Linked DNA regions of Homo sapiens: region 1 is linked to region 2. Evidence: fine-mapped expression QTL. A gene starts in region 2. The other region holds a variant in brackets. All regions are shown on one strand. Distances are from middle to middle.

The links. PIP is the estimated chance that this variant, and not a neighbour inherited with it, causes the effect.
Region 1: its variant is the best candidate, but not a certain one, in a credible set for the expression of PROC in whole blood (INTERVAL, PIP 0.66).

The regions. Positions count from the first base shown.
Region 1 is chr2:127,453,483-127,457,871 of GRCh38, forward strand. LOC124907884 (a long non-coding RNA gene) reads left to right here and starts at 2,177. Exons shown (of 2, transcript XR_007087229.1): 1 at 2,177-2,407; 2 at 2,684-4,389. The variant A/G (reference allele first, on the strand shown) is at 2,215.
Region 2 is chr2:127,415,796-127,420,131 of GRCh38, forward strand. It overlaps PROC (protein C, inactivator of coagulation factors Va and VIIIa), which reads left to right and starts at 2,632. Exons shown (of 9, transcript NM_000312.4): 1 at 2,632-2,697; 2 at 4,127-4,217. The coding sequence starts at 4,148. RefSeq lists enhancers at 1-355, 736-795.

The DNA of each region.
Region 1 (4,389 bases), 38 kb after region 2:
GACAGGAGGCAGGGGCTTGAACTCCCAGGAAGGAAGAGCCTGAGGGTAGGACCCTGTGGAAGAGGACTGGTGTCCTCTAGAGGAAAGGCAGAGTGACAGCACCATGACAGTGATAAGTGGCAATCAATCCACCATCTGCTTTGCCGGTGACCACAGCAAAGTAATAACAACTGAGAAGACAAAAAGGGAGGACCAAGAAGGAGGGGACAACTCTTGCCTGGAGGAGAAAACATCTTCTCTCTCGCCCTGTGGCCCTGTTTCTCCTAACCCAGGAACCAAAGACAAAGGGGCTGGCTGGCTGTCTAGAGTGTTCTGGCGGGGAGGGAGCTCCACCTAAAGGGCTGAAACTCAATGGCTGGCTGCCCCAGTATGGAATGGAAAAATGGTGTCCCTGCAAAAGCATCCTGCACAATTAGTGAGGAAGGTGGGAATGACCCCCAGCGAAGGCTTTGGACCCTGGCCCACAGATACCTTGTTGATGGGGATTTTTAAGGCTTGGAAGGCTGCTGACCCTATGTTAGCATAGGGTCTTAAGGGTTTGGGCAGACTGTCAATGGAAAATGTTAGCTGAGGCCAAAGGTCTTGGTCAGCTGGGGATGTAGAAGTGGGCTTATCAGACGACAGGCTGAATGCAACACAATGGTGTGGCAAGCCCTGAGCAGCTTAAGGGAGTCCTGACTCCATCTGCTTGTTTCTTAGGAGAGCTTCCGACAAAGTCCTCTTCAGGGGCAATGATACTAATACTAAGACAATTCAAGGGGCCATAGCTGCCTGGACTTACTGGAAACTTAGAAAAGACAAACTCAGAGTGCTGCCCATGAATTCTACAAACAACACCCTACCTGGCCTAAATCCAAATTACTATGAACAGTAAGACTTCCCCTCTCCTAAGCCAGACAAGCTTCCTACAGCCAGGCATCTCCTTAAATGTGAACCCTGCAATGAACAAGAAAGGTTACTTTGGATCCTAAGGAGGGGGGCGCTCAAGATTGGATGATCTCTAGTAAATTGGTTTAACAGTTCCAATAATTACTAGGGTTAGACGACAATTCTCAGCAGGTGTCTCCTCTGGAAACAGCCCCTCCTTCATATCTGGCCGTGTCCCCCATACGGATCCAGTGGTCCATGTTCATGGAAAACAGACCCTTCTGGTAGACAATCGCCCTTTTACCTTTCTCCACGTTAATAGTAATCTGGGCAGGGCGCAGTGGCTCATGCCTGTAATCCCAGCCCTTTGGGAGGCAGAAGTAGGTGGATCACTGGAGGTCAGGAGTTCGACACCAGCCTGGCCAACATGGTGAATCCCCATCTCTACTAAAAATACAAAAATTAGCTGGGTGTGGTGGCAGGCACCTGTCGTCCCAGCTACTCAGGAGGCTGAGGCAGGAGAATTGCTTGAACCCAAGAGCGGAGGTTGCAGTGAGCCGAGATCACGCCATCGCACTCCAGCCTGAATGACAAGAGCAAGACTCCGTCTCAAAAGAAAAAAAAAAATAGTAATCTGGACTCCAAAAAATAAACAACACTGGGTGACCAAATCTCATATTACAGGAAATGCTCATGCTTTAAAGGGATCCGTGGACTTTGTACCCTTGCTTGAACTAAGTCAGCGTGACAGGCTGTAATCCTTCCAAGGGGAATGGTTTGGGAGGATTAATTAAAGGGATAATTACCCACTTAACTGTTAGTATTGGCCTGGTTTTGCTACAATGTGCACCCCATTATTGGAATGGATCTCCTCAGTCACTATGTAACTCACGGAACAAGCCCAAGTCTTTCACGCTATTGGTGGGTGCCAGGGGTGAACTTTCCCCTCGTGGTGCAGGTGGTAAACATGCTACCTTACCGCTGAGGCGGGGCATGGAAGGATTACTGCCTGTCACAGCTCACTTAGTTCAAGCAGGGGTGCGAAGTCCACAGGCTCACCCCCACCCTTTCTCAGAGAGCTGGTTTCATATGGCTGGATTCTTTTGTCACAGTCTGCATTTCATCCTAGGATTGTCCTGATTCCCTAAATGAATTGTATTTTTTTGAGACAGGGTCTGGCAGCCTCGAACCCCTGGAGGCTTAGGTGATCCTCCCACCTCAGCCCCCAAGTAGCTGGGACCACAGGCTCAGCTAATTTTTACTTTTTTTTGCAGATATCAACCTCTCTATGTTTCCTAGGCTGGTCTCAAACTCCTGGACTCAAGCAATCCTCCTGCCTTAGCCTCC[A/G]CAAGTGCTGGGATTACAGGCATGAGCAACTGCATCCGGCTAAACAACCTCTCTTCTTGCAACACTGTTTCCTTGTGAGCTCATTAACATGCTAATTACCACATTCCACAGGAAGATGGATTACAGAGCAATAAGACAGGCTGGGTTCACCCTGGAACGTGACCAGTAGTGACAGCCTCTAACAATGACACAGGTGGGGACCACTATCGGAAGATGGAGATTCTGGGGAACTGCTACCAGCTGCAGGGCTGAGAGTGACATATCTGACATTTGTTCATTGTTCATCTGTTCATACAGTCATTCTTGCATGAGTTTACTGGACACCTGCTGTGAGCAGGCACTGAGTGGCATAAAAATTCCTAGAACAGTCTCATCAGAGAAAAGACACACACAGAAAGAGAAATTATACTACAATGCAGTTATGGAAACTCATTCAACAAAATTTTACTGAATGCTTACTATTTGTCAGGTACCGTTATCGATGCTGGGAGAAGAGAAAAGGACATCATTTTGCCCTCAGGGAGCTCATGGTCTAACGGAGAGAGAGACATGTGAACAACTACAACGTCTGCGGTCTAAGAAAACACTAAATTGGAGACGTGTTCAAAGCAGTGCAGGGGAGGGAGCGGAGTGAGACTTCCGGGGTCACCCAGAAGGGCTTCCCGGCAGGTAAGTTGCAGCTAACCCACACAGATGTTAATTACAGCAAGAAAAGATCTTTCACAGTGCTCCCTGTGCGTCAGGCAGGCTAGAGGTCTTGTCAAAAGTATGGCATATGTATCACATGCAAAATGATTTGAAGTAGAATGTGGACCAATTTTTAATTTTTTACTTATGCATCTAAATGTGCATTACAAAAAAATATAATGAGAAAACCAAACTTTCACCAATATGATTGCTCAGAGTGAGGCTAAAGGAATGAGTTTTAAAACTGATTTGAATCACAAATAGTGCTTAGATGTGGAGAGCATCTTAAATGTGGCTTGCCAATGACTGGATTTTGGAAAGCACCGATATGCGCATCTTTTTTTTTTTTTTTTTTTTTTTTTTTTTTTTTGAGATGGAGTCTTGCTCTGTCGCCAGGCTGGAGTGCAGTGGCGTGATACCGGCTCACTGCAATCTCCATCTCCTGGGTTCAAGCGATTCCCCTGCCTCAGCCTCCCCGAGTAGCTGTGACTCCAGGCACGCACCACTATGCCCGGCTAATTTTTTGTATTTTAGTAGAGACAAGGTTTCACCACGATGGCCAGGAAAGTCTCGATCTCCTAACCTTGTGATCTGCCCACCTTGGCCTCCCAAAGTGCTGGGATTACAGGCGTGAACCACCGCACCCGGCCACATGCATCTTATTTTAGTGAGATGAGATGTAGGAGTTAGCGAGGTAGGGAAAGGGAAGAACAGTAGACACAAGGAACACCAACTCAAAGCACACAGGAGAGAGTGCACGGGCTGCCTGAGAACAGGTGGTGGTGAAGCACGGTGGGCTGCGGGGCACGCGGAGGGCTGGAGGAGTGTGCGGGAGCAGAACCCCTGCTTCTGTGTTCCACTGCCTGTGTAAACTTCTCAGGTCGGTTCCCATGGTCATGTCTCTCCAGGAAGTTTCTCAATGGCACACACCATGTTACCCTCCCTTATGTCAAGCTTGTCCAACCCGTGGCCCAGGATGGCTATGAATGCAGCCCAACACAGATTTGTAAACTTTCTTAAAACATTATGAGATTTTTTTTTTTTTAGCTCATCAGCTATCATTATTGTATTTTACATGGAGCCCAAGACAATTCTTCTTCTAACACGGCCCAGGGAAGCCAAAAGATTGGACTTCGCCACTTTAAGATAAGCGGTTGTTGACTTTAAGACAAAAAAGGACACTTTATAATGACTAAAAAAATCAATCCATCAGGAATACACACCATTATAAACATAATGTACCAAACAACTGAGCACCAAAACACATGAAGCAAAAACTGGTAACACTGAAGGGAGAAACAGACAACTTAACAAAAGTAGTTGAAGACTTCAGTGCCCAACTTTCAATAATGGACGGAACAGCTAGGCAGAAGATCAGCAAGGAAACAGAAGGCTGAACAAGCTACACCTACAGACCACTGCAGAACACCCAATCACAGAACACACATTCTTCTGAAGAGCACATGAAACATTTGCCAGGAAACATCA
Region 2 (4,336 bases):
CTGGCCTTGCCCCACACACATTTGGTTCTAGCTCCTTTGCTTGGGTCTTCATCCATGCAGCGAATTCCTTAGCCACAGGTGTCCCTCTGCTCTCTAACTCACAGCGAGCTCGCTGCCCAAAGTCCTGCTCCGGCTTCCTGGGTGGACCTGACCGCGTTCGGGTGCACGTGGGGCGACTCACACCTGACAAGTAAAGCGGGTGAGGCCGCGCCTGTGAAGGGCGCCTGGCTCCTCCGCAGGAGCGGTGCGGCGCGGCGCCCCCGGCTGGAACCAGGTGTAACTGCAGAGACCCTGGGATCGCAGGAACGGCTGGCGGCAGGACTGTCCCTACCTCGAGAAGGTGACGGGGTTTCCTGCGCTGCCAGCCGATGAGGCGGCCGTGACGCAGCCCGCCGTGCAGAGTCCCCGTCGGCCGACAGGCGTGCAGAGCTCTGCAGAGGACCCTTCCGCCCTCTGGGCAGCCTGCCAAGCCGTGGCACCCCCAACCCCCAGCACTGGGCACTTGGGAGCATTGCAGCCGCCCTGGCTCGTACCGGTGCCGGTGCTTTGGGCACCTGGGCTGGTTTGGACATGGGTGCCCCGGGCAGAGTCCATTTATGCAGGTCAGAATCAGTGTGTGGAGCCTGCATAGACTTGCCCTGGAGCGGCTGCCTGTGCTGGGGTGGGGAGGAGTAGAGGGCGAGAAGTTGGTGGGGAAGGGAAGCGGCGCCAAAAGAATACCCACAACATCTTGCACCTGGAAGGCAAAGCAGAGGGCAGTGATCTCTGCAGACTTGCGGGGGCGACGCCTGAAGCAAACAGGGACATACAAGCTGGTGCCTTCTGTGGTTGTGCATGGGGTCTTCATGCTTCCTGTCTGAGTTCCCAGAAGCTTGTCTCTGCTTTTCTAGGCAGCTGCCACAGCCTGTCACAAACAGCTCCTGGTTCTCCACTTCTCATAGTCTCGATTTCAAAATCCATTGCCTCACCCTCCACCTCCTCTCCACCTCCACCCCTCCTAGCACCTCCTGACTGCTTGTGTTCTGTGTCTCCCCACTGTCTCCCAACCTGGGGTGGGGTTGGGGGGGATGTCTTTCCTCCTGTCTGCTCTTTGATGTCCAGCTGAAGTGTCACCTCCTACAGGCAGCCTCCCCTGGCTATGCCAGCTTGTACTGATTGCCCTCTCCTCTGAATTCTGTAAGCATTTCCTATGTGTACCTGCCCCTGGGCAAGGTGGGCCTGACTTGTTAGAGTGTTAGAGTTTTACCCTGTTCCTCTAGGAGGGCCTGGTACCACCACAGCCCAGCATGGTGTGGTGCCTCAGCAGGAGGCATCTGGTTACAATCAACACAAGCTGTTCCAGCCAATTTAAAGAAACTTCAGGAGGAATAGGGTTTTAGGAGGGCATGGGGACCCTCCTGCACCCGAAGCCAGGATGTGCCACCAATCATAAGGAGGCAGGGGCCTCCTTCCGCTGCTCCCTGGGACTCTCTAGGTGTCCGTGGCCTCAGTCCCCCTCTGCACACCTGCATCTTCCTTCTCATCAGCTTCCTCTGCTTTAAGCGTAAACATGGATGCCCAGGACCTGGCCTCAATCTTCCGAGTCTGGTACTTATGGTGTACTGACAGTGTGAGACCCTACTCCTCTGATCAATCCCCTGGGTTGGTGACTTCCCTGTGCAATCAATGGAAGCCAGCGAGGCAGGGTCACATGCCCCGTTTAGAGGTGCAGACTTGGAGAAGGAACGTGGGCAAGTCTTCCCAGGAACAGGTAGGGCAGGGAGGAAAGGGGGGCATCTCTGGTGCAGCCCGGTTCGGAGCAGGAAGACGCTTAATAAATGCTGATAGACTGCAGGACACAGGCAAAGGTGCTGAGCTGGACCCTTTATTTCTGCCCTTCTCCCTTCTGGCACCCCGGCCAGGAAATTGCTGCAGCCTTTCTGGAATCCCGTTCATTTTTCTTACTGGTCCACAAAAGGGGCCAAATGGAAGCAGCAAGACCTGAGTTCAAATTAAATCTGCCAACTACCAGCTCAGTGAATCTGGGCGAGTAACACAAAACTTGAGTGTCCTTACCTGAAAAATAGAGGTTAGAGGGATGCTATGTGCCATTGTGTGTGTGTGTTGGGGGTGGGGATTGGGGGTGATTTGTGAGCAATTGGAGGTGAGGGTGGAGCCCAGTGCCCAGCACCTATGCACTGGGGACCCAAAAAGGAGCATCTTCTCATGATTTTATGTATCAGAAATTGGGATGGCATGTCATTGGGACAGCGTCTTTTTTCTTGTATGGTGGCACATAAATACATGTGTCTTATAATTAATGGTATTTTAGATTTGACGAAATATGGAATATTACCTGTTGTGCTGATCTTGGGCAAACTATAATATCTCTGGGCAAAAATGTCCCCATCTGAAAAACAGGGACAACGTTCCTCCCTCAGCCAGCCACTATGGGGCTAAAATGAGACCACATCTGTCAAGGGTTTTGCCCTCACCTCCCTCCCTGCTGGACGGCATCCTTGGTGGGCAGAGGTGGGCTTCGGGCAGAACAAGCCGTGCTGAGCTAGGACCAGGAGTGCTAGTGCCACTGTTTGTCTATGGAGAGGGAGGCCTCAGTGCTGAGGGCCAAGCAAATATTTGTGGTTATGGATTAACTCGAACTCCAGGCTGTCATGGCGGCAGGACGGCGAACTTGCAGTATCTCCACGACCCGCCCCTGTGAGTCCCCCTCCAGGCAGGTCTATGAGGGGTGTGGAGGGAGGGCTGCCCCCGGGAGAAGAGAGCTAGGTGGTGATGAGGGCTGAATCCTCCAGCCAGGGTGCTCAACAAGCCTGAGCTTGGGGTGAAAGGACACAAGGCCCTCCACAGGCCAGGCCTGGCAGCCACAGTCTCAGGTCCCTTTGCCATGCGCCTCCCTCTTTCCAGGCCAAGGGTCCCCAGGGCCCAGGGCCATTCCAACAGACAGTTTGGAGCCCAGGACCCTCCATTCTCCCCACCCCACTTCCACCTTTGGGGGTGTCGGATTTGAACAAATCTCAGAAGTGGCCTCAGAGGGAGTCGGCAAGAATGGAGAGCAGGGTCCGGTAGGGTGTGCAGAGGGCCACGTGGCCTATCCACTGGGGAGGGTTCCTTGATCTCTGGCCACCAGGGCTATCTCTGTGGCCTTTTGGAGCACCTGGTGGTTTGGGGCAGGGGTTGAATTTCCAGGCCTAAAACCACACAGGCCTGGCCTTGAGTCCTGGCTCTGCGAGTAATGCATGGATGTAAACATGGAGACCCAGGACCTTGCCTCAGTCTTCCGAGTCTGGTGCCTGCAGTGTACTGATGGTGTGAGACCCTACTCCTGGAGGATGGGGGACAGAATCTGATCGATCCCCTGGGTTGGTGACTTCCCTGTGCAATCAACGGAGACCAGCAAGGGTTGGATTTTTAATAAACCACTTAACTCCTCCGAGTCTCAGTTTCCCCCTCTATGAAATGGGGTTGACAGCATTAATAACTACCTCTTGGGTGGTTGTGAGCCTTAACTGAAGTCATAATATCTCATGTTTACTGAGCATGAGCTATGTGCAAAGCCTGTTTTGAGAGCTTTATGTGGACTAACTCCTTTAATTCTCACAACACCCTTTAAGGCACAGATACACCACGTTATTCCATCCATTTTACAAATGAGGAAACTGAGGCATGGAGCAGTTAAGCATCTTGCCCAACATTGCCCTCCAGTAAGTGCTGGAGCTGGAATTTGCACCGTGCAGTCTGGCTTCATGGCCTGCCCTGTGAATCCTGTAAAAATTGTTTGAAAGACACCATGAGTGTCCAATCAACGTTAGCTAATATTCTCAGCCCAGTCATCAGACCGGCAGAGGCAGCCACCCCACTGTCCCCAGGGAGGACACAAACATCCTGGCACCCTCTCCACTGCATTCTGGAGCTGCTTTCTAGGCAGGCAGTGTGAGCTCAGCCCCACGTAGAGCGGGCAGCCGAGGCCTTCTGAGGCTATGTCTCTAGCGAACAAGGACCCTCAATCCCAGCTTCCGCCCTGACGGCCAGCACACAGGGACAGCCCTTTCATTCCGCTTCCACCTGGGGGTGCAGGCAGAGCAGCAGCGGGGGTAGGCACTGCCCGGAGCTCAGAAGTCCTCCTCAGACAGGTGCCAGTGCCTCCAGAATGTGGCAGCTCACAAGCCTCCTGCTGTTCGTGGCCACCTGGGGAATTTCCGGCACACCAGCTCCTCTTGGTAAGGCCACCCCACCCCTACCCCGGGACCCTTGTGGCCTCTACAAGGCCCTGGTGGGCATCTGCCCAGGCCTTCACAGCTTCCACCATCTCTCTGAGCCCTGGGTGAGGTGAGGGGCA